Homo sapiens: one gene and its partner. The protein of the gene in region 1 interacts with the protein of each later gene in a biochemical or structural test. Each region holds a gene or a part of one and is shown in the gene's direction. Other genes may lie near its edges.

The links.
Region 2: the proteins of SDC4 (region 1) and CSRP3 form a complex in vitro, tested with the Homo sapiens proteins (one study listed by IntAct).

What each region holds. Positions count from the first base shown.
Region 1 is NC_000020.11:45,344,890-45,360,367, reverse strand, and holds the start of SDC4 (syndecan-4 precursor), read left to right. Parts: upstream 1-11,943; 5' UTR 11,944-11,983; coding exon 11,984-12,043; intron 12,044-15,478. UniProt on the Homo sapiens protein: Cell surface proteoglycan which regulates exosome biogenesis in concert with SDCBP and PDCD6IP.
Region 2 is NC_000011.10:19,194,311-19,210,160, reverse strand, and holds the start of CSRP3 (cysteine and glycine-rich protein 3), read left to right. Parts: upstream 1-8,177; 5' UTR 8,178-8,207; intron 8,208-13,241; exon of another isoform or gene 13,242-13,448; intron 13,449-15,850. UniProt on the Homo sapiens protein: Positive regulator of myogenesis. Acts as a cofactor for myogenic bHLH transcription factors such as MYOD1, and probably MYOG and MYF6.

The sequences.
Region 1 (15,478 bases):
TTAGGATTACAGGCATAAGCCGCTGTGTCCAGCCAAGATGCCATTTTAGAATAAAAGAACAGGAAAGAAGGGAGGAAGGGAGGGAGGGAGAGGGAAATAAAGGAAGGGAGATAGTAAAATAGGTGGTGGAGTAGCAGGAAGTGGAAAAGGGGCAGTGAATCTCTCTGCTCAGTTAGCCCTGGGGTGAGGGATTAGGGAGAAATGGGAGGAAAGGCTTAGAAAAGGGCTGCAGAGGTTGACAATACCCAGGGCAGCTGTCTTCCTTGCAGATGCTGGAATGCGTGGCTCTTCCTGGGCTCTGCTCCCTTCACGTCACAGCTGGGCCCACTCCACCCCATCTCCTCCCAATAGGAAAGGCCCTGCCTACCCATTCTGCTGAACTAGAAAACACAGGTAGCTTTTGATATTAGGGCTGGCTGGAATGTCTGATGTCATCCCTGGAGTCCGGAGCTCACCTCTGGGAAAACCCCACTGGGCGTGCAAGCTAACCTCCTGCCCTTTCCTTTCCCCTTTGGGAGTTCAGTTCTTGGATTCCCGCCTTGCCAAGCTTCGGAAATGTACATCATCCTCCGTCTTAATTTGGATCCAAGAAGGAAACCAAGAGCTGGGGAAAATCATGGCAACCCCTTTGTTTAGCTTCATTGGCCCATTTTCAAATTTGACCACAAGCAGTCTGCTTCAGACCACAGAGTCTGAACTAGAGCCCCACTGGCTTGCTATGTGACCTTGGGCGAGTCCCCTGGTGGGTCCCAGTATCCCAAACTATCAAATGAAAGAGGGACATTGGACTCCGACTTGCAGATGCTGTCATGGCCCTGTGCCATCTGAATCACCTGAGGAACATACTGGATATTCAAATTTCCAGTCCTTGTTTGCAAACCTAAGTCCAGTTCAAGTCTCCCAAAGCAGAGTGTGGAAATCTGTGTATTTAGAGAGCTCCCCAAGTGATTCAGAGGTGCACCCACATTTGATAACTACAGCACAAGATGATCTGTAGTTGACCCTAAACCGGCTCCTTCATCCAACAGAAAACTGCTCTGTGACCTTGGCGAGTCACATTCCGGCTTCAGGGTTTTCTTCCATCTGTAATATGAGGGGATTGGATTTGAATAGCTAGCTGGTCTACGAGGGTTCTTCCTACGCTGCCAAGTCTGTGGTTCCAAACTTATGAATGAAATGTTAAACTTCAGGTCAGAGGCAGAGTGACGAAAAGCCACAAGCTGGGACAAACTGTCCTTTGGGTGGAGGGGAGGGGAGTGCCTCTGGTCACTTGGTCTCTTTCGTCACTTTCACACTGGGGCCCCACTGCATGCATGTAAGGACAATCGCTAAGGTCACCTTCTGGATCCACCCCCATAAATCCCTTGGGAAATGTTCTCCCATAGGCCCATAGGCTTGAGAGCCCTGCTTAGATTCGAATCCTGGCTCTCTGGCTGTCTTGCTGTCCTGCTGGGTGACCTTGGGAAAGTTACTTCATGTCTCTGAGTCTCAGTTGGTTTCCTCTTCTATAAAGTGGAGTTCAGAATAGTACCCATGTTATGGGCTGTCCTGAGGGTCAAATGTGTGCTTAGTCCACTGCCTGATATGCAGTGGGCACTATGTTAACCTCAGCAATGTTAATATGATTGTTATTATTTCTTCCTCTGGAATGTGGGAACGGAAATGCCTGATCTCAGATTTATGGCAAGGATCTAACAATGTATCAGACAAGTCAAGCCCGGTGGCTGGCCCATAGTAAGAGCACATTAAATGTGATACCTTCTCTTCCTCCTCTCACCCCTACTGTCGTGTTCTCTAGATCCCTCCCTCTCTCCCTTCCTCCCCCTCTCCCTTCCTCCCCCGCTAGGCTGCCCTACTGCCCTGCTCACATGTTTCCTTTCAGGGAATATTTGATGAAGACACTTCAGTAGAAACACGTGTCTCAGGGACACGTTATGCAACTCTGTGCTCACAGGTTTTTGGAAACCCCACGTGGGAGGCTTGGAGTTGGCTGCCTGTCCTCTACATCGGTGACCATCCTGGGCTCTGGCCAGTGAGTTCCTCTCTTAGAAGGAAAACTGGAGAGAGAGCTCATTAGCTGCCTGGTTTCTCCTCCAGACCGAAAACCCCTTTGTTACCCAGGTTGCTTTAAGTGCTGTTTGTGTCTGTGTTTGGGGAGGAATATTTGCTGAGCATCTACTGTATGACAGGCACTTATATAATTTAATCCTTATTTAATTTCTAAAACAAGCCTGTGAGTTGAGAACTATTAATAGCCCCACTGAACACATGCAGATCCTGAGGCTCAGAGAAGGGACATTTACCCAGAGCCATGCTGCCAGTGAGTGGTAGAGCTGAACTCCAACCCAGGCCAGTTTGACTCCACACACTATTCCTTCTCAGTGTGTAACAAAAAGCGCACTGAAGGCCAGGCAAGGTGGTTCATGCCTGTAATTCCAACACTTTGGGAGGCTGAGGTGGGTGGATCCACCTGCAATCAGGAGTTGGCGGCCAGCCTGGCCAACATGGAGAAACCCTGTCTGTACAAAAAATACAAAAATTAGCCAGGAGTGGTGGTGCATGCCTGTAATCCCAGCTACTTGGGAGGCTGAGGCAGGAGAATTGCTTGAACCTGCGAGGCAGAGGTTGCAGTGAGCTGAGATTGTACCACTGCACTCCAGCCTGGGTGACAGAGTGAGACTCTGTCTCAAAAAAAAAAAAAGGCACTGGACATTACAGTGACATACAGCTTTCATCTACCTGACCTCATCTTATTGTTGCAACAGCCCCAGGGATGTAGGTATAAACATTGTCCACATGTTACAGGTAAGGAAATTGAGGCTTAGAGAAGGAAGTGACTCACACTCAGTACACATTGAGGTGTGGCATGTCTTGTCAGCTGGAATAATCAAAAGTTAAGAAACATCTGGGGTGTCTGTCTTTCCACTCTAACTTTCCACCCCAACCTCCCTGTTCTTTCCTTCACACCAGAGGGAGTCAGGAAACTGGTTTTCTGTGTTCTGTGTCTAATGATCAGGGGTTTTCTGCAAACCCTCTATCTATGCAGGGTGGATGATGCCAGGCATGACAGTGGGTGGAAGGACCTCTGAGTACAGCCATCCCTCAGCATCCATGGGTGGTTGGTTCCAGGACTCCTGGCAGATATGAAAACCCAGAGAAGCTCAAATCCTTTATATAAAATGGTATAGTATTTGCATATAGTCTATGCAATCTTCCCACATTCTTTAAGTCATCTCTAAACATCTAATACAATGTAAATAGTTGTGAAACTATATTTTAATTTTTATTTGTATTATTTTCATTGTTGTACTGTTGTTTTATTTTATTTTATTTTTAAGACGGAGTTTCACTCTTGTTGCTCAGTCTAGAGTGTAACGGTGTGATCTTGGCTCACTGCAACCTCCGCCTCCTGGGTTCAAGTGATTCTCCTACCTCAGCCTCCTGACTAGCTAGGATTTACAGGCATGTGCCACCATGCCCGGCTAATTTTGTATTTTTAGTAGAGACGGGGTTTCACCATGTTGGTCAGGCTGGTTTCGAACTCCTGACCTCAGGTGATCTGCCCACCTCAGCCTCCTAAAGTGTTGGGATTACAGGTGTAAGCCACTGTGCCCGGCCTTTGTTGTTATTTTAGAGACAGGTCCTTGCTCTGTCACCCAGGCTGGAGTGCAGTGGCGCTATCATATCTCACTGCAGGCTCACACTCCGGGGCTGAAGCAATCTTCCCACCTCAACCTCCTGAGTAGCTGGGACTACAGGTGCATACCATCAGGCCTGGCTATTTTTATTTTATTTTATGTAGAAAAGGAATCTCACTATGTTGCCCAGGCTGGTCTCAAACTTCTGGGCTCACGTGATCCTCATGCCATGGCCTCCCAGAGGGCTGGGGTTACAGGCATGAGACACTGTGCCCAGCCTCACACCTTCAAGTTTTCTTACCTTGATTCTTGACCCCATCCATCATGTACTAAACTTTCTGTCCCTACCTAGAAATTATTCTTTATTCTGACCTTAAAGGACTCAGGGCCTTGTTTTAAGATGAAAAGTTGTTTTTTTACACTTCCTTTTTATCATTATTTATTCATTCAATCATCTACTTGATAAATATTCATTGAGCATTTATTATGTGCCAGAAACTGATCCAGGTGGTATGGATATAAATGAATAAAGTGAATAAAGAGAAAATACTCTAATCTCATAGAGGAGAGAGATGATAAACAAGTCAATCAACAATATAAAATCTAGCGTCAAGGAATGTCAGTATACTCAGAACACCAACAGTGTGGGATTCTGTTATAACATCAGAAAATGGATGAATACAATATTTATCTCTGCTCCTTTTAGGACAGGACACTTGGGAATCAGGAACAGGAATCAGGGCTGTAAGTTCAGTGAGACAGCATGGTGATGCAGACAGAATCAAAGAAACTTGAGTTTGAATCTTGTATCAGTCAGCTTTTGCTACTTAACAAACACCCCACAAATCTCAGGGGCAACAGAAATGGATTTCTCAATTGTAGATTTGCAGGTGGGTTAGGGCAGCTTTGTTACAGTTACGGTTTTGTTGTCATTTCTCCTTGCTCCGCCTGTTTTCTCATCTGTAAAATAGAGATAAAACTACTTACTTCACAGCATCCAAGTGAAGATGATGCTCAACACTCCCTTCTGATTAAACATACACTCTGCTCAGGGTATGTGAGAAGCTAAATGTTCAACCTCTAGGCCAAATAGTAATCCAAAAAGTGGTCTGGGCTGCAGGCGCTTACTTAAGGAATAAGGAAGGCCATTGGCCAAGCCAATGAGTCTTGTGGTCCCCTCCCAAAATTTAGACTAGAAGAGAGAACCAGTAAGTCAGTAAAAGAGAGAGAGGCACACATCCAGGAAAAAGAAGAGACACTCTTAAAGAAAGAATAAGCAGGCTTAAAGAGCAAGAGATGAGTCAGCCAGTCTGTGGCATCATCTCAGTCCTTGATGTTTCCCTTTCAGTTTTAACCTTTAGCCCTCCCGGTCCTCCTAATAACTCCTAAGCCTTTTCTTAAGGAGTCCTGAGTGAGGCATGTTTCCTCGCAATTGCAAGAACTGAGCTAAGACAGAGAAGATGCATATAAAGTTGCCAGCCCACAGCTTGGCATATAGTAGATCCTCAGTCTACTGTATAGCTGGCAGCTATTGTCCGCTAATCAGGGAGCTGCTTAAGAACACGGACAGGTCTTGTTCACCAGGATTTATCAAAAAGCTTCTCACATACAAGATATTCATCAGATGTTTTTTGGATAAATGACCAAGTGAGTGAATTGCTACATCTGAGCCTCTAAGGGAAAATGTCCAAATGGCATTCATCCAGTTATCCATGCGACAAGTATTTACTGAATGTAAACCTCTGCCAGACCTTGGACAAGGTGCAAGGGATGCAGTTGTGAACACAACAATGTTCTTGCCCTCATGAAACTTACATGTGGCAGAGAAAACAGAAAATAAACAAGTAAAAGAATAAGTGCGTGATGGCAGGTAAGGGAAATGTTACGACAAAAAAATAAAGCAAAGCAAGTGGAAAGAGTAATTGGAGGTGTTATTTTTAGAATTCTTCAAAATGCCTGTGGTGGATGCTGATTCACCGTGTGGGCCTCGGTTTGCCTATCTTATAATGCGGGTACTGTTGGACTGAATGATTTGAGAGGACCCTTCTGGGCCTAGTGTTCTTAGTTTCTGTGGTTATGCAAGGCAGTGGCTGGACATTCCACAGCCCCTGGAAACTCTAAGCTGTCATTATCTGTAGCTGGAGAGAGATTTACATAAACTGAGGAAGACCAGAAAGGGTTGGCACCATCCTGGGCGAGAGCCCTATGGCCCAATCCTTTTTCTGTTCTGAAAATAGTAATGTGTTACCTGTTATTAACCATGTGTGAGGAGCTGCTGGGGAGGGGAGTAAGTCAAGACTCTTATGGGGAGGCCCCCTTGATTATAAAAATAGATAACACTTTGATGCTCCGTATTGTGCTAAGCACTGTAGTCTTAACATTTTTATGATGTTAAGAACTATAATGACCCTCAAATTACATGGGGGGACACATGAGAAAACTGAGGCACAGAGAGAAAAAGTGTCTTGCTCCATACCACCAAGATTGCAATCTAGGTCTCTTTAACTTTGAAGACTGTGCTCTTCACCTAAAACTAACATGAGTGAGAAAGGGATGCCTGCCCAAAGAGTGGGACAGATAGAGTCCTAGAAACCTCAAGGCAGGAAGAAATGAGAATTAAAAGAAGAGGATGGAGGATTCCAGGAGAAGGTAGCATTTAAGGTGTCTCTGGATGTACCAGGTGTGCACCTAGCCTTGGTTAACTCCGGCCTAGGAAGTCTGAGAAAAGGGGGAGGGACACCACCTCTGCTATAGGCTGGGTCTGAGCTCATTTTTTAGCTCCATGGGAGGGGGCTGCCTGTTGATGTCCTAGATCATTTCCTTTTGCTTGAAAGGAAGCTAGGGGGAGGATGTAAAGTGTTTGACCAATGCCATCTCTCAGACTCACTCAATCTCAGGTTAGAATATACAGAAAGAGTGCTGGACCCAACATAGGTGAGTATATGTTATGTGTTCACCACTTCACCTTATTCCATTCTCCTAATTAGTTCAAGAGGGAATTATCTCCATTGTAGGGAGGAGCAAAGGGACTCACAAACTTTCCTCCAGTTGGCAAGTCCTGGAAACAGGATTTTAATGAAGAACTTCTGGCTGTAAACACTGTGGGTTTTGTTTGGTTGTTTGGGTTTTTGTACCTCAGCCCCATGCAGGAAATTAGGAACTCCTATTCAGTATTACAAACCTTTGACTACTGCATTTTGTTTTTTGGAGGCCAAAGAAGAACCCAATAAAACTTCTCAAAGAATCTCAGGTTTTGGACAAATTATTTTTAACTCTTTGGGGGTCAGGATCACCCAAAAGGAGGATCCCCCAAACATCCTCTTTTTGTGGATATAAAGAAAGAATCTGAAGTTTCTTGCCCCAAAATAATGTATGCAGAGACACATAACCTAGAGGAGTACTGACCATGCATGTGTCCTCTGCCCCCAGTCATGGAGCCCAGGTTAAAGACCCATACATCCACAAATAATTATATTCAAACATGTTGCATCCCTTTAGAGATTCTCAGAACTTGGGGAAGGGGAAATTATTTCCTTAATTCCAGGAGGTTAAGATAGTTTTATAGAAGAACTTCCATTAACTCTCTAAACGAGCTGTTTTCAGTTTTTGTTTTTGTTTTTTTGCTAGTGTACTCTGTAAATGATTATTTTAAGACTAGGTACTCCTTGACATAATTTTTAGTTGATAGCTTAACATTTTTCATCAAAAGTTTAAATAGTTGCAAAGGTTGTAATTTCTGGCATATTGTAAATTTATACACGTAAAAGTAAAACAATTACATCACTCTTTTAAATGTATCCAGTTAAATTAAATGCCCTAGCAATTCGATACCTACAATCATCCATTTAAAAAATACATGAACAAGCTCTTTTCTAAGAGTCAGACATTTTGCATCATTTCTTTTTCTATTTGAAGTCAAATTTCTACTCCATGTTCCACCACAAAATTTTATCATAATGTGTTTTTTTTTAATGCGTCAGAGGCTTACTGATGACTCTTTTAAAAAGTCCTGCAATAATTTAAACAGCTTCATTAAGGTACAACTGGCATAAAATAAGCTATACATATTTAAAGTATACAATTGACATAAATATATGCTTGCTGTGTTAGGCTGTTTGCGTTACTATAAATATATGAGATTGGGTAATTTATAAAGAAAAGAGGTTTAATTGGCTTACAGTTCTGCAGGCTATACAAGCATGGCTCCAGCATTTGCTTCTGGCGAGGGGCTCAGGAAACTTCCAATCATGGCGGAAGGTAATGGGGTAGCAGACATCTCACATGGCATCATCAGGACCAAGAGACAGGGAAGGTGGAGTTCCCAGACTCTTAAACAACCAGATCCAGCGTGAACTGAGAGTGAGAATTCATTTATCACCAAGTGGATAATGCTAAACTATTCATGAGGGATCTGCCCCAGGATCCAGTCACCTCCAGGCCCCACCTCCAACATTAGGAATCACATTTCAACATGAGATTTGGAGGGGACAAACATCCAAATCACATCACTCTCTAAACCAGTCCTACAAACTTTGATAAATAATTATTAAGTAGAAAAAGTAAAGTTGTTTTAGAAATACCTGTCTTAATTAGGTGGCTGTGGCAATTTTTCTCTCCAATTAGCTCACTAAAACCTCCATGAGATTGGGTATAGTCGCTCATGCCTGTAATACCAGCACTTTGGAAGGCCGAGGCACGCGGGTCACTTGAAGTCAGGAGTTTGAGACAAGCCTGGCCAATGTGGCGAAACCCCATCTCTACTAAAAATACTAAAATTAGCTAGGCATGGTGATGTGCACCTGTAATTCCAGCTACTTGGGAGGCTGAGGCACAAGAATCACTTGAACTCAGGAGGCTAAGGTTGCAGTGAGCAGAGGTTGTGCCACTGCACTCCAGCCTGGGTGATGGAGTGAGACTTTGTCAAAAACAAACAAACAAACAAACACCTCAACGAATATTGCTAGAATGAAACAGGTTTTAGCAATAATTTTATTCCTATTTTTCATTTTTTATAGCTGTCAAACCATGGTGTGGTAAAGCCATCTTGTAGTGGTTCATGAAAGTCAATTTTTAGAAATTTTGTGGCTGGGTGCCATGTAATCCCAGCACTTTGGGAAGCTAAGTTGAGAGGACTGCTTGAGCCCAGGCCTTCAAACCCAGCCTGGGCAACATAGTAAGACTGTGTCTCTACCAAAATAATAATAATAATAATAATAATAACAATAACAATAATAATAATAATTAGCTGTGCGTGGTGGCGTATGTCTAGTCCCAACTACTCAGGAGGCTGAGGTGGGAGGATCTCGTGAGCCTGGGAGGTTGAGGCTGCAATCAGCCATAATTTTGCCACTGCACTCCAGCCTGGGCTACAGAGAGAGATCCTGTTTTTTTTTTGTTGCTTTTTTTTTTATGTCATTAGCCAGTTGTTAAACATAACTATTACTAAAAATTAATTTATATGAACATACAATTATATTAAAAAAAAAGGAGGCCGGGTACAGTTGCTCACACCTGTAATCCCAGCACTTTGAGAGGCTGAGGCGGGTAGATCACGAGGTCAGGATATCGAGACCATCCTGGCCAACATGGTGAAACCCTGTCTCTACTGAAAATACAAAAATTAGCCGGGCATGGTGGTGTGTGCCTGTAGTCCCAGCTACTCTGGAGGCTGAGGAGAATCGCTTGAACTTGGGAGGCGGAGGTTGCAGTGAGCCGAGATTGCGTCACCGCACTCCAGCCTGGGTGACAAATTGAGACTCCGTCTCAAAAAAACAAAAACAAAAACAAAACCATAAAGGAAATAAATACTCAAAACTCATCACTTACTAATTATCTCACTACACTTTACTGTTATCCATGCTTTTGAGATTATTTGCACCTATTGTATCTGTGTGGTAGAAATATATCTTCCCAGCTCCATGTTCAGTGACATCTCATTGGTAGCTTGAAATCAGCCATGCTGGTAGTATTTACACTACAGAAATTGGCAAATTAGCACTCGCCACTTCCCCTAGCCAATTGTCAAACATTTACTGGCACACCACTGGCTGTAAGTGCTGAGAAACTTATAAAAGTTGGTAGGAACAGAAGAACTCTTGTTACAACAGTGTGACAATAGATAACTAAAATCACAGTTACCTATTCTATATTTAATGATCTATCTACTGACAACTAGATTAGGCCCCCCTGCAATTTTGTGGAAAGCAAAGATTGCAAACCATTTAACTTGCAAAAGGATTTCTTATTCTGGCATGAGATTTCTTCATTTTCTCAGTTTTGTTCCAAATCCTAGGGAAGCATGTTAAAAACCACTGAAAGTCATTGCTTACCTTTAAATCTGTGGAAACCCCGTGGTCAGCATTTGAAGTTTGCTTTACTGCCAAGGTTCTCTGCCACAAGAGACTTTTATTCTTTGATAATAATTAAGAGGTGGAAAAAGGGAAGTCACTACCAATTCTCCACTCCACAAAGTATATGAATTCATAATATGCCAACAGTGGCCAAAATGTCCTACTTCTAAGGCTATGTTACACCCTTAGAAAGATTTATACATAAGTCAGGGAGAGACAGGGTTAGGCTTCTTTTGTACTTCGATCATCGTAGAATGCCCACCTTCACACCCTGCAATAATTCCAACAGTACGTGTGCTTGGGGACCCAGAGAATTTTACAGTCTCCATATAGCACCCCCCTCCACTTCTTCCCTCAACCTGCTCCCACCAATGCACTGTTAGGAGGATGAAGGGTAAGGAGGACACACAACTTTCTCTTATAAAGGGTGGAAGCTTACCCTAAGAATGGAAATAAACTTGCAGACCAGTTCTCAGAGAGATCAAACTTTTGAAAAAGTTCAAAATCTGGTAGATGAAGCCCTTAGAACAGACGTCAGCCACTCTGAGACCAGCGTCAGAGTGGTCTCAGAGTGGCTGAGGCCCACCGCCTATTTTTGTTCAGCCCACTGCTAAGAATGGTTTTTGCATTTTTATTTTTTATTTTTTTGAGACGGAGTTTTGCTCTGTTGCCCAGGCTGGAGTGCAGTGGGGAGATCTCAGTTCACTGCAACCTCCGCCCCTCGGGTTCAAACGATTCTCCTGCCTCAGCCTCCAGAGCAGTTGGGATTACAGGCGCAGGCAACCATGCCTGGATAATTTTTGTATTTTGTAGAGACGGGGTTTCAGCATGTTGGCCAGGCTGGTCTCAAACTCCTGAGCTCAAGTGATCCGCCGCCTCAGCCTCCCAAAGTGCTGGGATTACAGGCATGACTCACTGCATCCGGCCTGCATTTTTATTATAAAATGTCATTTATTTATTTATTTATTTATTTATTTATTTATTTATTTATTTTTGAGACAGGGTCTCACTCGGTCACCCAGGCTGGAGTGCAGTGAGCGATCATGGCTCACTGCAACTTTCACCTCTCTGGCTCAAGCAGTCCTCCCACCTCAGCCTCCAGAGTAGCTGGGCCACAGGGGTGCACCACAATGCCTGGTTAATTTCTTTAAAAACTTTTTGTAGAGATGGGGGTCTCATTATGGTTGCCCAGGCTGGTCTCCAATTCCTGGGCTCAAGGGATCCTCCTATTCCTCGGCCTCCCAAAGTGCTGGGATTACAGGCGTGAGCCATAGAGCCCAGCCGATTTTTGCATGTTTAAATGGTTGGGAATAAAGTCAAAAGAATAATAATATTTCGTGACACATGAAAATTATATTAAATTCAAATGTCGGTGTCTATAAATAATGTTTTATTAGGACCTAGCTGCCCTCATTCCTTTAGTATTTATGGCTGCTTTTGAGCTACGACGCTCGAGTTTGAATAGTTGCCACAGGGATCGTATGGCCCGCAAAACCTAAAATATTTAGCCCTTTACAGAATAGTTTGCTGTCCCCTGTCTTAACACGGTTCACATCCCATTTGGGAAGTTCTGTGTCTTCAGAGGGGAGCACACCCGGTATGAAGGCTGGTCTAAACTCAACACCCTAGGGAAGTCCTTCCCGTCCCTGGGCCTTAGTTTCCCCAACTATAAAATGGGGTTAGCCGCAGTGATCTCTGGGGACCTGCCTGGCAGTGGGTCAAATAAATAAAGGGAGTTGGAGCTCCCGGAGGGTAGGACTAGGGGTTGAGTAGGAGCCGGCGGGCTCGGGCAGGGCGGGTCCCTTGGGGTTTCCAACTCCGCGGGCGGGCGCAGTGCCCCGCAGGCCTCGCTTCCACTGGGGAATTCCGGGCGGGGTGCGGGCGGCGGGGCGGGGGCGGGCCGGGGCGGGGCCGGTAGGCCGCCTATAAGATGGGTGGCGCGCCCGCCCGGGGCCACTCGCCGCAGCCTGCGCGCCTTCTCCAGTCCGCGGTGCCATGGCCCCCGCCCGTCTGTTCGCGCTGCTGCTGTTCTTCGTAGGCGGAGTCGCCGAGTCGGTGGGTGCTTGGAGGTTCCCGGGCTGGGGGCGAAGCGGGGGCGCAGGCCGGTGCCTCCTTTGTTCGTCGGAGCGTGGGATGGGGGGGGGCAGATCGGGGGTACGCTACCCCCAACCGGACACCGAGGCCCGGGAAACTTTGTTGGAAACTTTGCTCCGGGGTCACGGGCCAGCCTCCGGGATGGCTTCACGCGCCGTGCGCCCCTCGCCTGTTGCTCTTCCCGCCTCCCCGGGCCTCAGCCCCGCCGCGGGCTACGGGCTCGTTAGTGACTAAGCCGGTGTCAACTCTTCAACTCCCACACCCTCGTCCCTTCCCTGGTGACCCTGGGGCAGGCTTGGAGCGCTGAATCCCCTCCTCGCTCTCGGGGCGCCCAGAGCAGACAGCTTTAGGATCCGAGATGGCCCTGGGGGTCGGGGGGCTGCGTGTACTCGGAAGGGGGAGGGTTTTAGGGTTGTGCGAGGCCCTCTTTCACACACCAAGGAGAACTGAGCCCTAACCTCAGTTCTGGCCCCAGCTCTGTCATTGACTTGTGACTTAGGGCAAAGTCCTGCCCTTCTGAATCTCTTCCCAATACTGCACCAAGGGTCTGAGGGAATGGGGCAAGAGGGGACACTGCGTTAGGGTTTCTAGAAAGTTGGGGACTCTGCTCTTTTCGAGGACAGAGGAGAGGAATGGTTTAGACTCAACACTTAGCCAGGAGCTGAGCCTCTGCTTTCTGCAAGAAGTGTGTTCATTTTTTCTCAATTGCAGATAAGAAAATTGAAGCATCCACCTTGAGTGAGGTGAAGGGGGTAGGGGGGAGAGAAGGCCTCAATCAGCCCAGGGAAACCTTTCCTTCTCACTGTCCACTGGCCTCCGTCATAGCTGTCCCTGGGCCAGCAGAAGCTCTATCCATGCCCGCAGCCGGCTTAGGAGGAGGGGGGCAATCTCATCTGGGAAGTTGGGGGGCATGGGAATTACTGGTGAAGGCAATCTGTCCCCCACAGCCTGAGCTTTGTGCCCCCTTTGTGCCCTTTAGCCCCAGTTTTCAGAGCGAGTGAGTCCTTGCAGTTTAACCATTAATGTTAATTTCTTTGAAAGCCTTGGGGCTCCTGTTCCTCTGAATTTACTTAGCGGAAGGTTGATTCTGCCTGCAGGCTCTTCTTGAGGAATGAATGAGACCCTAGGCAATACTTCCAGCACAATTCCAGGCATGCCATGATGATTGCAAACGTGGAGCGCCTTTGTCGGGGGGCCAGACATTGCTCTAATAACTTTCTAATGGGTATATCCAGGAGCTTAATTCCAACAACAATCTTACTGTGTACTGTTCTTAAACTGGTCCTGAGGCTAGAGAGGTTAAGTAACTTGCCCAGGGTCACACAGTTAATACACAATAAATGGGTGAGTCAGATTGAAATTTAGGCAGCCAGGCTTTCAAGTTTCTGCTTTAGCTTAACTTCTACTCTTTGTGCTACTCCAGGTGTCCCATCGTTGGTAACTAAAGACGGGTTTAGAATAGGTTGAGATTTTAGGCTGGAAGGCAAAGGAATTCTGAGGTGGAAGGAAACAAGGCCAGAGTGAGGTGATGACTTAACCTAAACCAAAGGCTACCTTGCCTAAAATGTTAGTGGCTGAGGACCCAAGCCTTCTGCCTCTAGCACAGTGCTCTAAACTAGGCCCTGAAGGATGTGTCGGGTCAAGCAACTGGGGAAGCATCCGAAGGGATACCACCTAGGCAGTACAGGGAAAAAGAGGAAAGGACCCAGGAGGTTGCTGAGGTCACCGTGTGCCCAGTCACATGCCAGTTTCCTCCCAGGGGCTGCTGAGCCTTCAGGTGCTTCAGGGTGCTGAGCAGTCAGCTGTGTCCTGGGGGCATTCTGAAGGATGTAGTTTGGGGGAAGGGGACTGTGTCAGTCCTGCCTGGGTGACCCATCAGCTGCAGGAGACATCAGCCCTGGGCAGCTGCTTCCTGAGATAGGTGTCAAGTCTCATCCTGACCTCAGCTCTCCCCTTCCTGGCTAATGTCACAGACCTCCTGCCTGTAACTGGGGCACAGGGCTTCCCCTTTGGCCTGTCCCCTCCCTCTTTTCTAGATTGTGGTTGGAAAAATCAGACATAGTCACGGTTGGCTCGGACTGAAGAGATGATCCAGCGTGTCCTTTTCTTTTTGCAGGTAGAGAAAAGTGAGGCCCAGGGAGAAGGACTTTGCTAATAGCAGTTAGGAGTGATAGAGTACTTTTTATATGACAGATCTGGTGCATTTTGTCCTCACAAAAAGACCTGTCACATGGGGATTCTATTATGCCCACTTCCCAAATGTGAGAGGTAAAATGGTACTACTTTGGGTTAGTAGAGGGCATCCAGGACCCCAGGATCTCTGACTAGTAGCCCTCCCATTGTGGGTGGTGTTCCCCCGACTGTTCCATCATTCCCCTTACCACCCCCATATTTTGGAAGGGAACCCAGGCTCAGTACCCAGCTGTCCTCTCCTCTGTTTGGCTGGGCTTGCTATACTAAACCAGTTCTTCCTGTCCAGCTGGGAGCATTCCCTGATCTGCCTTCCTGCCACTCCCTCTCAGGCCAATTAAAGGCAGCCTTGTTTTGGGAGTCCCCTCCACCCAAAGGTGTTCCTACCCAGGGGCACAGCCTACTGACTTGGCCCCGGGCCCAGGCGGTTGTGGGGAAGTGTCCCCCACCTATCACCTATCAAGTGTACTTTAGCTTAAGGACATTTCTGGTCTTCTACAGCGTCCTCTTCTTGATTACATGGGAGTAGGGGTGGGGGCGGAAGCCTAGGGGCTTCTAGGACCCTTGAGTGAACAGTGAGAGCTCTTGGGACTTCTTGAGCCCAGGGAGTTATCAAACACCCACGAAAATATTTGGGCCATGATTTGGAGGGTTCCATGAGGTTGGGGGGAGGCCTCTTTCCCCGCTGGGCTGACATCCCCCACCTTAAAATGAAAGGTTTGAACAGGGTAGCCTCCAGAGTCCTTTCCATCTCTCAATTTGATTAATAACTTAAGTACCTACTATTCAAAAGAGGTCTCTCTCTTGAAGGAATTAACTTGAGGGAATTAACATACTCCACCAAATGCTGAATCCCTCCCTCTCTCCCCCCGCACACTGAGGGCAGGAACTCTGCTCTATTTGTTTTTGTGAAATACCTGTCCCCTAGTTTGTACTCAGGAAATGCTTGTATGAATGAATAAATTCGTGCATGTAACTTTATTCTAAATGGTTCATTACTGTTATTTATTGCTAGTATGAGTATCTCCCAGTACTGCGAGGTACCATTTTCTCTATTTTTACAGGAAATTGATGCTCGGAACAATGCAGTGGCTTCCTAAGGTCAGAACCAGGTCCTTCTGATAGGGCAAGGTGTCTGGTTTGAGTGTCCTCAGAATATTCCAGATGAGGAAATTTGCTGGGTTTGAAGGTAGATACCTTAGGTCC
Region 2 (15,850 bases), on another chromosome or scaffold:
GGAATGTAGCCCTTTCAAGACCTCTCAAAATTATTCAGCTACATGAATAAATTCAACTTCAACTTCTAAATGCCTACGAGGTGCTAGCATTGAGGACCCAAAGACAAATAAGATGCTCTCTTTTTTACAGAGGAGTTCACCATCTAATGATCCAAAAAGACACGCATACAACCAGACAAAGTTCCCCATAATGAGAGCATGTTTTAAGGTCCCAGTGCAGAGTATCACATCCTACCTGGAAAGGTTAGGGATGGAGGCTTCCCCTGAAGAGGCCATTTGGGCTGTTTATTGAAGGATGAGGAAGATTCCACCAGAGGGAGGAGGTGAAGGAGGCGGAGGACATTCCAGGCAGAGGAGGGAGCATGAGCAAAGCGTAGAGGCATGAAAGTACTGGCTATTTTTGGAGAACAGTGATTAGACTGAAGAGGTTGGTAGATAGGATAAAGGAAAGTGGGATGGTGGGAGAAGAAGTGGGAAAGTTAATCTGGAGCAAGATGAAGAAATTTGAAAATGATGTCAAAATTTTTAACATGATCTTATAGTAAGGGGGCACTAACAGAAGTCTGCGAGCTGAAGGGTGCCATCATCAGATCCAGGTTTTGAAAGATGACTCTGGTGGTGGTGTAACAAATGGAAGGGAAGTGGGAAACCTGGGTGGGGGGCTTCTGAAAAAGTCTAGGCAATACATCTGAACTGGGGCAATAAGAAGAGGAGGCACAAAGGAAGGGCTAAATTCAAAAGACATTGAAGTGCCTGTTGTTGACACAGGTGAAGAGTCATAAAGACTACACAGCCCATGGAAACACCTCCTAAGACAATCCCACTGATCCACTCTGAACCTCTGCAATTTGATTTACTTCTGTCGATTTGCTGGCCATGTGATACCCACTTTGGGGACTTGTGCTGCTCCAGGCTTCTCCTAAAGGCTTTGTACCAGCTGAATAGCAAATGTAGGCACAGCCTCTTCTGAATCTGTCGGACTGTTTCTGTAAAACCCTGCTAATCTCTCAGTGCAAGATAAAGTTAAGCTGGTACGTTGGCTATGTGGGTGCTCAGCCCCACCCTGTCCTCTCTCCCAACTACATAATGCCAACTAGATCAAATTCTGACTAAAGCAATTCTACTAGTTAAAATTTCCATCAGAGCATTGGCTCTGGAACAGAGAATCTGAGTTCAAGGTTTGACTTTACCATATACTAGCTGTGTAACCTAACTTCTCAAACAAAGTTCTTCATCTATAAAAAGGGGATAATAACACCTATATCTTCCCTTTGATTCAGAGAGAGGCAGAAACAGAGATAAAGGGACACAGAGGAGAGAAATTGCACCCAAGAGAGAATCAAACACATCATAGTGCTTTTAAGCTGAAAACACTGTTATCACAGCAAGCAGTGAATGGCCATGAAAATAAGGAGGCCCGTTTTTAAAAATCTGGATGATGTAAATAAATGAGCCATTTGTTTCATCAAGTCTCATTTCATTTCAGTAAAGATGACATTTGTTATTATTTCTTGGAAAAAAAGAACCATCTTGATGCACTTATGTGTTGCTTTGCCCATTTCCATGCTTTTCACAGACGCAACGCATGGTCAGGAGCAACCTCTGAATGGTAGGTTAGAGTTAATTCTCTTTTTGAAATAAGAGCCAGTGACAAATATCAGACCACTGGTGCACAGAAATAGTGAAAAGCCCTAGTTACTCAAAGAATGTGGCTGACATTGAATACATTATGGTCCAATTATGTTTCTTTTCAGAGCGGTTTAGATGAGCAGATGGAAGCTGAGATTCCCAAGCCTGCAAGTCCCTCTCACAAAATGTTCCCTCTTTTATGTGGCATGGTTTAGATCAGTGATTCTCAAAGTAGGAGGTGGGGAGCCCCCTAGGAAACATGAGAAATAATGCTAGAGTATGAGACAAAAGATTGAGACTTGTATTCTATTTAATATCTTTTTAGTGCATCATTGTGAATATGTTTTATACTGTGTGTGTGTTTGTGCACGTGTGTATTGCTCAAAAATGTTTTATGAGGGGACCATAATCAAACACATTTTGGAACCATGTTGTGGAAGGGTTTTGGGTTAGATCTGGGTTTGAATTTCCTCATCACCTTTGTGATGTGTGTTTCCCCCTGACTTACTAATTTTTAGTTATCCTAAGGAATACGAATGAGGAAGCAATGGATACTGGTCCTAACATCGCCGTGAATTTCCCGTTGACCTAACTGTGTGGCGTAAGAGATTTAGTTCATTTTCATGGACTGCATTTATTTCATTCCTCATTCATACCAGGGGAAGAATAATAATGCCTTCTTGACAAAGTTCTTGTGAGGATTAAATAAATCACTGTTTCTAATTGAGCTCTCTTTTTCTGATTTGGGGTATAAAGGCAGTGTTTTAAGGCATGTGATTTCAGGTCGCCCTCACTGTCCTGGTTCACGCTTTTGCCTGGTCTCCTTCATGCCCTCTGTTTCTCAATGGTTCACCTGTTTATGGTAATTCTGGGAACAATGAGGCAGAAACAGCAGGTTCCAGTCCCAGCACCACCAATTCACTTGCCATTGAGTGGACGTTCAGCTTGTACTGATTGAGCACCCTGCTGTGTGCACAACACGGGCTTACTGTCACCTATTCCTCATAGCATCTCAAAAGGGATTTAGGAATTTCTTCACTTTTCAGATTCAGAAGATGTAGAGCAGTGCTGTCCAAGAGACCTTTCTGCAGTGATGGAAGCATTCTGTAGCTATCCTCTTCACTGTGGAGGCACTAGTCACATGTGGCTGTTAAGCACTTGGAATGTGGCTTCTGTGACTGAGAAACTGACTTTTACATTCTACGTATCTTAAATAATTTCAACTTATATAGCCACGTGCAGTTATGGCTACTGTGTTGGACAGCACAGTGCTGGAGAATGCTGACAGACCCTAGAACTCCAGAAAGTGATTTAAAAGAAAATAAATTAGAGAGAACACTGAAAACAACACCATAAAAAGAAGTGTCCACTAACAAGTGAGAAATTTCAAAGAATTCCAGAGAGAAAGCAGAAGGCTGTGGATTAACAGAGCGAGAAGTCCTGGCCACAGCAGTGTAGCAGCGTGTGGCGAGGCAGGAGCTGTCCTGGGACATCCCAAACTTGCATGTCCTGGGACATGCAGAGTGGAAGGCACCCTGGGCTATCACAAGGGTGATGGATAAGAAGATGGGTCCAGGGCTAGGAGCTTTCCTCACTTTCCAGTGTGGCTCCAGACTAAGGGGCCAGAAATCCCAGGGAACTCCCCATAGAACCAGTGACCTCCAGAGAGAGTGGGACAGCTCACACCCAGGAAACACACCGCCACTGCACACACCTGGTAGCAGGCTCCATCCCTGTCCCACAGTCCCTGCGGGAAAGCTCCTTTAATCAGAGGTGGTATCCACCAAAAGGAAAACAGAAATTCTCAAATGACATGGTAAACACATATCCAAAAATCCCAAATATAGTTGAAAAACCAGCACTATGAAGATGAAACACCAAACTCAACACACAAAAGAACAAATATCCAAGAAAACATAATTGATAGAGCAAACAAAGAAGACTTCCCCCAAGTTAGTATAATGAATATCCCCAGAGAGATGCAAGATGATATGTCATTTATAAAGCAAGGATGGGCTATATGAAAAAATTAGGTATCTTAAAAATTATAAATGTAATTATTTTAAAATCAGTAGATGAGCTGAGCAGAATGTACATGGAGGAAATGCAAATTAGTTCCATGTAAGATTGAGCTAAGGAATTCTCCCTTAATAAACATAAAAGGACAAAGAAATTCTAACTTCTAATGAGAGTTTCAGCAAGAGGAAACATTACATATAGGGAGGGATTAATGAGAGAAATAATAAAAGGAAATTTCCTAAAGGAAAAAAAGTGAGTTTTCAAGTTGAACTCATCCACTAAATTTCAAGCAAAATAAAATTTAAAAGGCCGTAACACAGGAAATTGTCATAAAATTCAAGAGAAGATCCTGAAAGTTTCTAGAGGAAACAAGACAAGTCAATAAAGGAACATGAATATGACTGGCACCAAACTGTCATGTACGTTACTAAAAATAATTGAAGACAGTTTTCAAAGGTCTGACTGAAAATTATTTTGGATAGAGATTCCTAAATTTAACCAAACTAGCATTCAAGTGAAAGCAAAATGAAGACTATGAGGGGCGGGATAGTGTCCCTCCAAAATTCGTATGTTGAAGTCCTAACTCCCAGTAGCTCAGAACGGGACTGTATTTAGAGATAGGGTTCTTAAAGAGGTAATTAAGTTAAAATGAAATCATATGGGTGGCTCCTAATCCAATATGACTGCTGTCCTTGTAAGAAGAGGAAATTAGGACCCAGATACACAAGGAAGACCGTGTGCAGATACAGAGAGAAAACAGCCATCTACATTCAGAAGAAACCAACCCTGCCAGCACGTTGGTCTTGAACTTCCAGTTGCTGGAATTGTGCAAAAATAAGTTTCTGTTGTTTAAACCAGCCTGTCTATGGCATTTGTTACATTATGTGATAATTCAGTAAGTTTACAGCAGACTCTCTCAATGAATTCATCGAGAATGATTTACCTCACACACACACACACACACACACACACACACACATGCACACACACAGAATTAAAAATGTAAGGTACAAAAAGTAAATAAAGAACAGTAATTGGGAGGCTGAGTTGGTTGGATCACCTGAGGTCAGGAGTTCGACATCAGCCTGGCCAACACGGTGAAACCCCGTTTCTACTAAAAATACAAAAATTAGCCAGGCATGGTGGTGGGCACCTGTAACCCCAGCTACTTGGGAGGCTGAGGCAGGAGAATCACTTGAACCCAGGAGGCAGAGGTTGCAGTGAGCTGAGACTGCGCCACTGCACTCCAGCCTGGGTGACAAGAGCAAAACTCCATCTCAAAAAACAAACAACAACAATAACAAAACAGTAATTGAGTGAAGAAAGCACTAAAATTTATCATTAGGTTTAAGTAAGTACTAACCCATAATGAACAAAACTAATTACAATCCAAAACTGAAACTACACATCATGTTGTGGGGAGGTGTGTAAAGGCAAGTTCAGAATGTGCAAAGAGGGCAAGACGTGACGGTCAAAGTGCAGCATTCATTTCAAGCAAGGAAGCTCCTTTTATTTTTTAATGCTTAATTATAACTTTATTTTTTCCTTTGTTCTCCTAAAAAAATAAAACGGGATACATGTGCAGAGTGTGCAGGTTTGTTACATAGGCATACGTGTGCCACGGTGGTTTCTGCACCTATTGATCCATCCTCTAAGTTCCCTCTCCTCACCCATCCCCCACCCCACAGCAGGCCCTGGGGTGTGTTGTTCCCCTCTCTGTGTCCATGTGTTCTCATTGTTCAACTCCAACTTATGCATGGAAGCTCCTCTTTATTTATTTATTTATTTATTTATTTATTTATTTATTATGCTTTAAGTTTTAGGGCACATGTGCACAATGTGCAGGTTAGCTACATATGTATGCATGTGCCATGTTGGTGTGCTGCACCCATTAACTCGTCATTTAGCATTAGGTATATCTCCTAATGCTATCCCTACCCCCCCCCCCCCACCCCACAACAGGCCCCGGTGTGTGAGTTCCACTTCCTTGTCCATGTGTTGTCATTGTTCAATTCCCACCTATGAGTGAGAACATGCGGTGTTTGGTTTTTTGTCCTTGTGATAGTTTGCTGAGAATGATGGTTTCCAGCTTCATCCATGTCCCTATAAAGGACATGAACTCATCATTTTTTATGGCTGCATAGTATTCCATGGTGTATATGTGCCACATTTTCTTAATCCAGTCTATCATTGTTGGGCATTTGGGTTGGTTCCAAGTCTTTGCTATTGTGAATAGTGCCACAGTAAACATAAGTGTGCATGTGTCTTTATAGCAGCATGATTTATAATCCTTTGGGTATATACCCAGTAATGGGATGGCTGGGTCAAATGGTATTTCTAGTTCTAGATCCCTGAGGAATCACCACACTGACTTCCACAATGGTTGAACTAGTTTACAGTCCCACCAACAGTGTAAAAGTGTTCCTATTTCTCCACATCCTCTCCAGCAACTGTTTCCTGACTTTTTAATGATCGCCATTCTAACTGGTGTGAGATGGTATCTCATCGTGGTTTTGATTTGCATTTCTCAGACCTAAAACCATAAAAACCCTAGAAGAAAACCTAGGCAATACCATTCAGGACATAGGCATGGGCAAGGACTTCATGTCTAAAACACCAAAAGCAATGGCAACAAAACCAAAATTGACAAATGGGATCTAATTAAACTAAAGAGCTTCTGCACAGCAAAAGAAACTACCATCAGAGTGAACAGGCAACCTACAAAAATGGGAGAAAATTTTTGCAATCTACTCATCTGACAAAGGGCTAATATCCAGAATCTACAATGAACTCAAACAAATTTACAAGAAAAAAAAACAGACAACCCCATCAACAAGTGGGCGAAGGATAGGAACAGACACTTCTCAAAAGAAGACATTTATGCAGCCAAAAGACACATGAAAAAATGCTCATCATCACTGGAAGCTCCTCTTTTATCTGCTTTATATACTGATTTTCCTCTTATCTACAGAAAAAAGTATTCTGATGCAAACACACACACAAAAAAAATTTTAAAGCTACTATTGGTTGACCAGTTTCAGTGACTCAAGCCTGTAATCTCAGCACATTGAGAGGCCGAGGTGGGCAGATCACTTGACCCCAAAGTTTGAGACCAGCCTAGGCAAAATGGTGAAACCACATCCCTACAAAAAAATTAGCCAGGCGTGCTGGTGTGCGCCTATAGTCCCAGCTACTCAGGAGGCTGAGACAGGAGGATTGCTTGAGCCCAAAAGATCGAGGCTGCAGTGAGCTGTGATCATGCCACTGTACTCCAGCTTAGGCAACAGAACGGGACCATTTCTCTAAACAAACAAACAAACAAACAAACAAAAGCCACTATCCTAGACGATTTCTAAAGTCCTTTCTAGCTTTAACTTTCTAAAATCCTCGTGATTGCCTCGTCTTTATGATGAAGATGCCATTTAGTGAAAACACAGACCACGGATATCTCATAGGAGGCTATGCCACGGCCGTCTTTGTGAAATTACTGCAACCTTCTTGACAGTGAAATATTCTATCCTTCAACAATTGCTTTGTGGGCAGGTAACCAAAGGGCTAATATCTGATGTGAAGGCTGGATCATGAACCTCCCGGTTGGGTTCTACATGTACCTTACCTCAACATCCGGGTCAACATGAGTGGAAGGGGCTTGGTGCCTCAGTTTCCTCATCTATAACATGAAGAATTGGTCTTCACATCTCTGAACCTCTTGTCAGCTTTTCAATGCCATAATTTATATCAGTCCCTGGTGCTTGATCAAATTTAAACGGTGTGAATTCCAGACAAAGAAAAATTAGACCTCCAAAGAAAATATGGGTCTACAGAGACATATCAAGATGTTATAAATATAATGTGATGATGATAAATATGCACTGCTGTATCAAATTCTTAAATAGAAAAGGATAATAACAAAGTAAATCAAAACTTTTTAGAGAAAACTTCGTTTCCTAGGATAGATGGAGTGACAGGTCCCAAGTGATGTGCCAACCTTTTTTCTCCCAAGCTTCTTTGAAGAGATTATCTAAGTATCGTTTCAGACACCCATCACCCTTATTTTTAGCTCTGAGTTCTCTTCACGAGTGTGGTGACCTGTGGCTCTAAGTTCCAGAGGCTCCCAGATATGGCACATGACTCATTTGCAGGTACCCTGCAATGATTTCCAGGAAGGTCAGTGGGGTGGGGGCCTGGAGAAATGATTTTTGATGTTAAACCCTTAGCTCTTGTTCCTGTTCCAACCACTTGATCAGAAATGACACACTTCATAAATTGATCCCTTGGTGCCATAAGCAATTGGCAGTGCAAATAGAACCCAAGTGATTCGGTTCTCCAAGAGGCTCACAGCTGGCTGGGGGGTTGGGGGAGACAAAACTCAGGGCTTTGGTCACAGTCTATTTTCAGCCCCTGATAGCAGTTGTGTTACTCACGTCTCATTCACCCTCTCCCTTGGCCTCCCTCCTGCCCTTCCCCCAGCAGGCCAAGGCTGGTGACAGCCTTCATATATTTAAAGAGGACAAGAGCCCCTCAGACTCAGTTGAGCTGAACGGAGTCCACACAGGCAGGTGAGTGGAGCAAGGCAGACATTTGAGCTGGAGGTGGGTTGGTTCTGTGGCTGGTTTGGACTATAAAGGGTCCCATAGAGTAAGAGCACATTTTACGTCTCAAGTGCCAGCACCCTCTCTGGTTCTGTGCAAGGAGGCTCAAGTTGTACTTGACTCTGGTGTGGATCTAGCAGGTATTAAAAAATTCCTGCAAGGATGGTTAATATTTAGGGGGCTTAAGGGACCTCATAGGCAGATAAATGAGTAAAGAATTATCCTCATTATAAAACTACTTACGTGGTGGAATTACATTTCCTGTCATCTTAGTTGGAACAACTGGAAAGCGGGAGGAAATAATGGAAAGTCTGCTGACCTTCTCGTCTTACAACCACCATATAATTCATGGATGACAGACTTTGAGAAGGTTCCTGCCCTCAGGGGCTTGGTCTCCTCTTCTGCAAGGATCAATACAAATTGGCGACATTTTTTCCAAACTGTAAAGTACTGCACAGATACAAAGCGATAAGCGATTGTACTAGATGCAATATATAAGACAGCTTTCCCATGCTCAATTTACCTGGAATGGTGTTATTCAAAAGGTCGTGGTGAATGACTGAGATTTTGGGCTTGTTGATTTTAAATAGACTTTTGTATCCCAAAGATATTCAGCAACAAGTTTGCTTTTAATCTTTTGAAATTAATCAAAACTGGACCCCAAAAAGACATTGCTATGTTGAAATATATTAAAAGCTCTATTAAATGGGAGGATAATTTATCCAGTGGTTAGGATTCCCACTGTTTCCTCTAGGTTTTAGTCAAGGACTTTTTAAAATATCCCAGTGAATGACAGACATAGGTGTGATTGAGAATAAGAAGAGGTTTTAAGCAATGGTCTGAGTGGAAATGCTGCTGAAAGATCCAAGCTGCCGACTCTAATTTCTGCCCTGTTCCTGAGCCAAGGTGGTGACTCCTCCAAGAAGGAGGAGTTGAGTTACTGGTCTGAGGAACCTTGTCTCTGCAATACGATTCAATGTAATTTAATAAGCATGTATGGACCATCTCCTATGTCAGGGCTGGAGGGAGGTAGAGGCAGCTCTATGCAGGGAAGGGTATAAGTGAACAGCACGAAGAGTGGGAAATTGGGGATGGCCTGTGTCCTCAGTTTACATCTGGGATTAAATCTCAATGCTGGGTACATACAATTCATCACAATGCATGTAGAACTGCTTTATGATCCAGAAAATGTGAGGGAGTCTTATGACTTGGCTTTGTTCCCTTTCTGAACAACTCAGTCGTTTGTGGTCAGTGGCAATGAGCCCAGGCTATTGGGCAGGAGGTGTAGCTGAGCCCCAGGGCTTTGTGTCCTCCCTGGGGTTCAGGCAGACAGGTGCTCTGCAGCCCAGACACACGTGTCATCCATCAGAAACAGGAGACACAGGGCAAGGGGCCTCCTCCTTCGAAGGAGAGAAGGGGGGAAGGAAAGAGAGAAGGAGGGAGGGAGGAAGGGAGGAAGAGAGGAATGAAGGAAGAGGGAGCTGCAGCAGCATTCAGCCAGCAAATAGCCAAAATTCCCTTGGAGGAAGTGGAGACAGAATCTTGATAGAATAGAAACTCAGAAATCCTGGGATATTCAAGAAGAAAATAAAGATAATCAGTTATAGAGCCCGTTCAAATTATAGCTCTGAATATCACTTAACTTATCTGAGTTTCCATTTTCTGAACAATAAAACTAAGGGTAGCCTACCTCTATCAAAGGGACTTGTGAGAATTGAATGAGATAAAGTATAGGAAAGTACTTTTGTAAAGTTTAATATAACCGTACAAATATGTGAGAACGTTGAGAAAAGGCATACAGCCAAACCCAGTGGGTTTTGGGGGGGTTTCCTGCTAAGTACAAGCGTGCTGATAAAAGTCCAGAGGTCAGAGTGGGTAAGAAGCTGACCAGGAGTTAGAAGATAATTAATTTGTTTTACAAGAGGAAAGACCCAGGGCTAGGAATATAACACACAGGAAATACAAGTCTTGAGGCAGACAGATTTCCAGTTACAAGTGTGCTGTTCAGATATCTGTGAATAAATACTGTATAGAGGGTTGGGCTTCATGCACAAAGAGAAATGTGATGCCTGCAAATGTGAAAAACTGCAGTTATTCATCCCAGTGAAGAATGGCAGGAAGGGAGACAGTAATGGTCTTAAAGGGCATTGAGGATGGAGCCTTTTCTGAGCTTTACTGTGGGAAAGGGTTGATCATGATTTGATGGTCGTTTATGGCCTAGGCAGGCATGGAACGAGTACTAGCTTATTTAAGGGTCACAAAAAGTTATGCAAAACTCATTTTTCAGAGGAAGAAACTAAAGTTCTAGAAAGCTTAGGAATTGCCCAGCATCACATGGCTGAGAAAGCGGCAGAGCCAGGAGGTAAACTGGGATATGATGTGGTCTTTAGAAATAAATTGTAGAGGTCAAAATAGAACAAAGAGTGAGTTTTGGGAAGTAAAAGCTGGCCACGCTTCAGATATAATTTCACAAAAGGTGTAAGATGCCCATGTTCTACAGCCTTCATTTAATGTATGTCTACCATGTCTGAGTTTAAAAGGGGCTGAGAGCCAACACTCAGGTTTATTTCCATGCTGGCAATGAGCAACCTGTTCTTCCTGGGCTCTGTGAAAGGGCCTCTGGCCGGAGGACGTCATATATCTGGGTTCAGAAGCTCAGGAGGAAGCAGCCACTGACCTTGAATGTCCTACACCGAGAACTGAAGGGCATGAGCTCCCCAGACTACAGGGCCCCTGGCTAGGCATGCTGCCTCCAACCCAATCCAACAACGCAAGGGGACCGACTCTCACCCCGACCTGGGCACACCTGTCCTGGGGCACCGCACACTCCAAAGGCTGAAAAACAAAGCTGATTCACAGTCTGAACCAGAAGGGCCATGGAAAACAAGCAGGGAGTGAGTTGTTTGTTCTAAAAGAACAGACTTGAAAACTGGAGATAATGTAATAACAACAATAATAGTCATGATGCAAGTAACTACAATTATTCAATTCCTGCTATGTATTAAGTAATTCTATATGGTGTCTTAGCTATTATTATCTTCTTTAACCTGAAAACAACCTTCCCAGACAAGCCTTCTCATATTGTCTTTACATGAGGACATGCATTGAGGACACTGGGTCAGAGAATTTGAGCAACTTGCCCAGTGTTCAACAGTTAGTGTTTCTGAACTTAAGCTTGGTTCTTCCAAAGCCCATGGTTTTCACTGTGGCTATGTCATCTTTCTTACCCAAATTAAGAGTGAATAAAGGAGAGGGTTTGAGAGGGCACCCCATTGGGCAGCTTTTCTGCAAAGTGAGGTTTCAATCACTTTTCAGATCCTTAAATCTGTCTCAGGGCTTAAAGGACCCTTGAAGGGACTTCACTGTATAGCAGCCACTTGGACATCCGTCCCCACCTCAGCTGAAAATCAATAGTGCAGAAGAAATCTCCAGTTCCAAGGAAGCCCTTTCCATGTTGAACAGCCGTAACTCAGAAAGTCATTGATTTCAGTGAATGAATTCAGTTTCCCTGTTAGTCCCACCCTTGAATACCCTCTGTGTCCCATGGAGAGACAATGGATTGGTCACGTCTCAATTCCCATCAACTGGGAAGTCTGGGTGATGGAGGTGCTGACCCTTGTCCTCTCTCCAGTGTTATAAACAGGAGCATGAGATACAGAACCAGCTTAACGGGGGGTTAAATGGCAGCTCTTCCAATTACTAGCTGTGTGACCTTGGAAAAGCTACTTAAGCTCTTCAGTTCTCTTATCCATAAAAATGGAAATAAAATTTGCTCTGGGCAGCTGTTGTAAGTATTAAAAAATAATATATGTAAAGCAACTGACATAAAATAATATATGTAAAGCTTTGGAGTCAGAGAAACGTAAGTTCCAATCTATTCATGTGACACATATCAGTCCCATGAACTTGGACTAATGTAATTTCCCAAAGCCTCCATTTCCTCATCTGTAAAGTAAATGTTATAATAGCACCTACCTTGAAGGGTTGTTGTGAAGATTAAACGATACCCAAGGGCAGTGCTCCAGGCATGTTAACTTCAATAATAAAGTTAGAAATGACTATTACTATCGCTTAGATTCCATATATATATATATATATGTTCCTATGATCCAAAATCTTTGCTTCAGCCAGTGTAGACAATTGAACTCACTGCAGGAAATCAGGCATCTAGTAGGATGACCAACTGAGCTAGCACTGAGCTGAAAACGGTGGCATTGTGGCACTGTGGCTTGAGGTCTCTGCCCAAAGTCATGGCCTAAAGTTCCCTCCTGGGTGCTCATTTTATGTACCCACCACTTTTGCCCTAACTCATCATTGCTCAGCTTTATAGTTGGTAGTGAAAGAAGAAAGAAAGAAAGAAAGAAAGAAAGAAAGAAAGAAAGAAAGAAAGAAAGAAAGAAAGAAAGAAAGAAAGAAAGAGGAAAAGAGGGAGAGAAAGAGATGGAGAGAGGAAGGGAGGGAAGGAAAGGAAAAAGGATGGAAAGAAGGAGGGAAGGAAGGAAGGAAGGAAGGAAGGAAGGAAGGAAGGAAGGGAGGGAGGGAGGGAGGGAGGGAGGGAGGGAGGGAGGGAGGGAGGGAGGGAGAAATAGTTGGATTAGGAAGAATGTGCCCAAAATACACAGTTTAGTTATTCTTTTGAAAATTCAGATTGATGAATAACAACTTAAAATTGTGGGAGAACCTAATTGGTTCTCACATTTTATATTACTCTACAATTTACAGAATGATATGACAGTACTTGAACTAATAGGGTCCTCTCAGCAATAGTGAAATCAAAAGGATTATTGCCCTCATTCTAGTGAAGACACTGAAGTTCAGAGAGATTGAACGGTTTTCCCAGATCACACAGCTTCGAAGAGGCAAAATGGAACTAGAACTCCAGCCTCTGGCACCTGATCCAGTGTTTTTCCCACTGCCCCACTGAAGCACATTCCTAGTATAATCTCTTCTATGGTATTAGTTACATCTTAGTTTAAAAGTGGGCACAAGGTAGTCTCTCACCGGGATCTGAGTATCCAAATCTGGAGTCCAACCTCTTCCAAGTTGATGTCACAGGGCTGTCCATTCTATCTCATCCTCGTAAATTCCAGACTGTCCCCCATTTCAATCTTGACCCACGATTTGTCTTTGACAACATAGTCATCTCAGGGACTGGCCCAGAGAGTCGTGCCAGGTGGTATGATGGAGATTGTGACCCAGGTTACAAACAGGGCCGAGTGACGGGCAAGCCTATAATTGTATCCCACCTTCAATGACCCTTGCCAGTACCAGGCAACGCTGATAAACAAATGGCCCATCCCTTGGTACCTTGCCAGGGTAAGCTCACATTCTGGGAGTGTCTAGGGGAGTGTTGGGACACAAGAATTCCAAAGCAATGCGGGAAGCTGAAAAGGTTATGTTCATAAGCCAGGACCTAACTGGGATTTCAAATCATAGCTCCTTAATTAGCACATTGGTGCCATTTGAGTAACCTAAAGTGAAGTGGGAAAAAATAATTTCTCAATACTGCTTTAAATTCCATCATATTTCCATGACCTTCACAATGGTCCTGCCCAGGAGATACTATTATCAACATTTTTTACCCGAGTTCAAGGTCGAGATTAGAATCCATGTCTCTGGATTCCGAATGCCTTTTTATTTATTTATTTACTTATTTTTTCAGATGGAGTCTCACTCTGTCGCCAGGCTGGAGTGCAGTGGCGCAATCTCAGCTCACTGCAACTTCCACCTCCTGGGTTCAAGTGATTCTCCTGCCTCAGTCTCCTGAGTAGCTGGGACTACAGGTGCATGCCACCACGCCCAGCTGATTTTTGTATTTTTAGTAGAGATGGGGTTTCACCATGCTGGCCAGGATGTTCTTGATCTCTTGACCTCATGATCCATTCGCCTCGGCCTCAGTCCTGGGATTACAGGCGTGAGCCACCATGCCTGGCCTGGATTCAGGATGCTTTAAAATATCCTCTACCTTTTGGCCTGTGAGACATCTTCTGTTTAGCCTCCATGGTTACATTCCCATCTTCAGAAATGGAACTGAGCATCATTAATAGAGTACTTACAGATTTATATTTTAAATTTCAAGTCCTGATGATATATGTCAGATATTTATGATCGCTTAAAAACAACCAGTGCTAGGATACATTAGTTTGTGAAGGAGGTATTATCTGTAATCCTATTCTCATTTTGAAAAGTATGCCTAGGCAATGAATCCACACACACACACACACACACAGATATATATGTATTTTTATCCCCCAAGAGGTATCTCTGTCTCCTATTAACTTGCAAGACATGCCAATGAAATCTCCACTGCAAATCTGAAATGAGAAATTTGACCTAAGGTTGTTTTCATTGAAAATTTCTATATCATTAATTTTACAAGTGTCGCTGCCATGTTCCTGGAGGAAATTTATTATATTTCTCCTCTATTTTGTATCATGCTGAAACTCAGGATCAAAATGAACATGAGCAAAATTATGTGAGTCTATTCTTTTCTAGAAAATGTAACATCTTTAATGAGAGAAGAATGGATTGTATAAAAAGAAGTTGGCTAAGAAAAATATCCCTAAATGCTTACTTTTAAATACACCTTGGTTATAAATGAGAGGGTCCAGCAATCTTAAAAATCTATTCCAGCCCTGAAAGTCTGTAGTTTAAATGGAGTCCAAAATAAACAAATTTGGGCTATTTTAGAGGCTATTTAGGCCTCTACGCCTTTCTGCTTGCTCTTTTCTCTGCATGACTTCATTAGCATTATTCCTTCCCACTTTTCTGTATCTGGTGAACTCCTATTCACCCTTCAAACCCCCATTTGAATGTGATCTCTTCTGTGACCCTCCAACAGTTCACTGCCTTTATCCCCAGACTAAATGTGGGGAGCCAGTCCGTCATTTGAGTTTCTGTAGCATGTCTCACAAGACTCTTCTCTGGTACAGAGCATTCTGAATCTTGTCTATTTTTCTCACTACAACATGGGCTTCTCAATGCCAGGGGTCACAAACTACTCATTTTTATAAGTTTTCCCCCTTTTGTCACTGAGTACTTAGTGCAGTACTTGACACATGATAGGCAGGTAGTAAATGCAGGGTGAATGAATGAATGAACGAATGAATGTGAGTTTTAATTCTAAGTCTTTCAACTCAAAATCCATTACTCTTTCTAGTTTCCTAAACAACCCGAACTACAGAAATAGAAAAACCACATGCTTCCATTTTTTAAGAAATTCTTATTTATTTATTTTAGAGGCAGGGCCTCACTCTGTCACTTAGGCTGAAGTAGAGTGGTGTGATCATAGCTCATTGAAGCCTAGAACTCCTGAGTTCAAGTGATTCTCCTGCCTCAACCTGCTGAGTAGCTAGGACTGACTACAGGAGCATGCCACCACACCAGGGTAATTTTTTGGGGGGTGGGGTAGAGACAGGGGCCTCACTATGTTGCCCAGGCTGGTCTCAAACTCCTGGGCTAGTGATCCTCCTGCCTTGGCCTCCCAAAGTCCTGGGATTGTAAGTGTGAGCCACCATGCCCAGCCCAATGTTTCCTTTTTTAAAGTTCTTTTCTAAAATTTTACTGAATTAGCAGAAGATCCTACTTCTGTGAGAGGAAGGATAGGATGT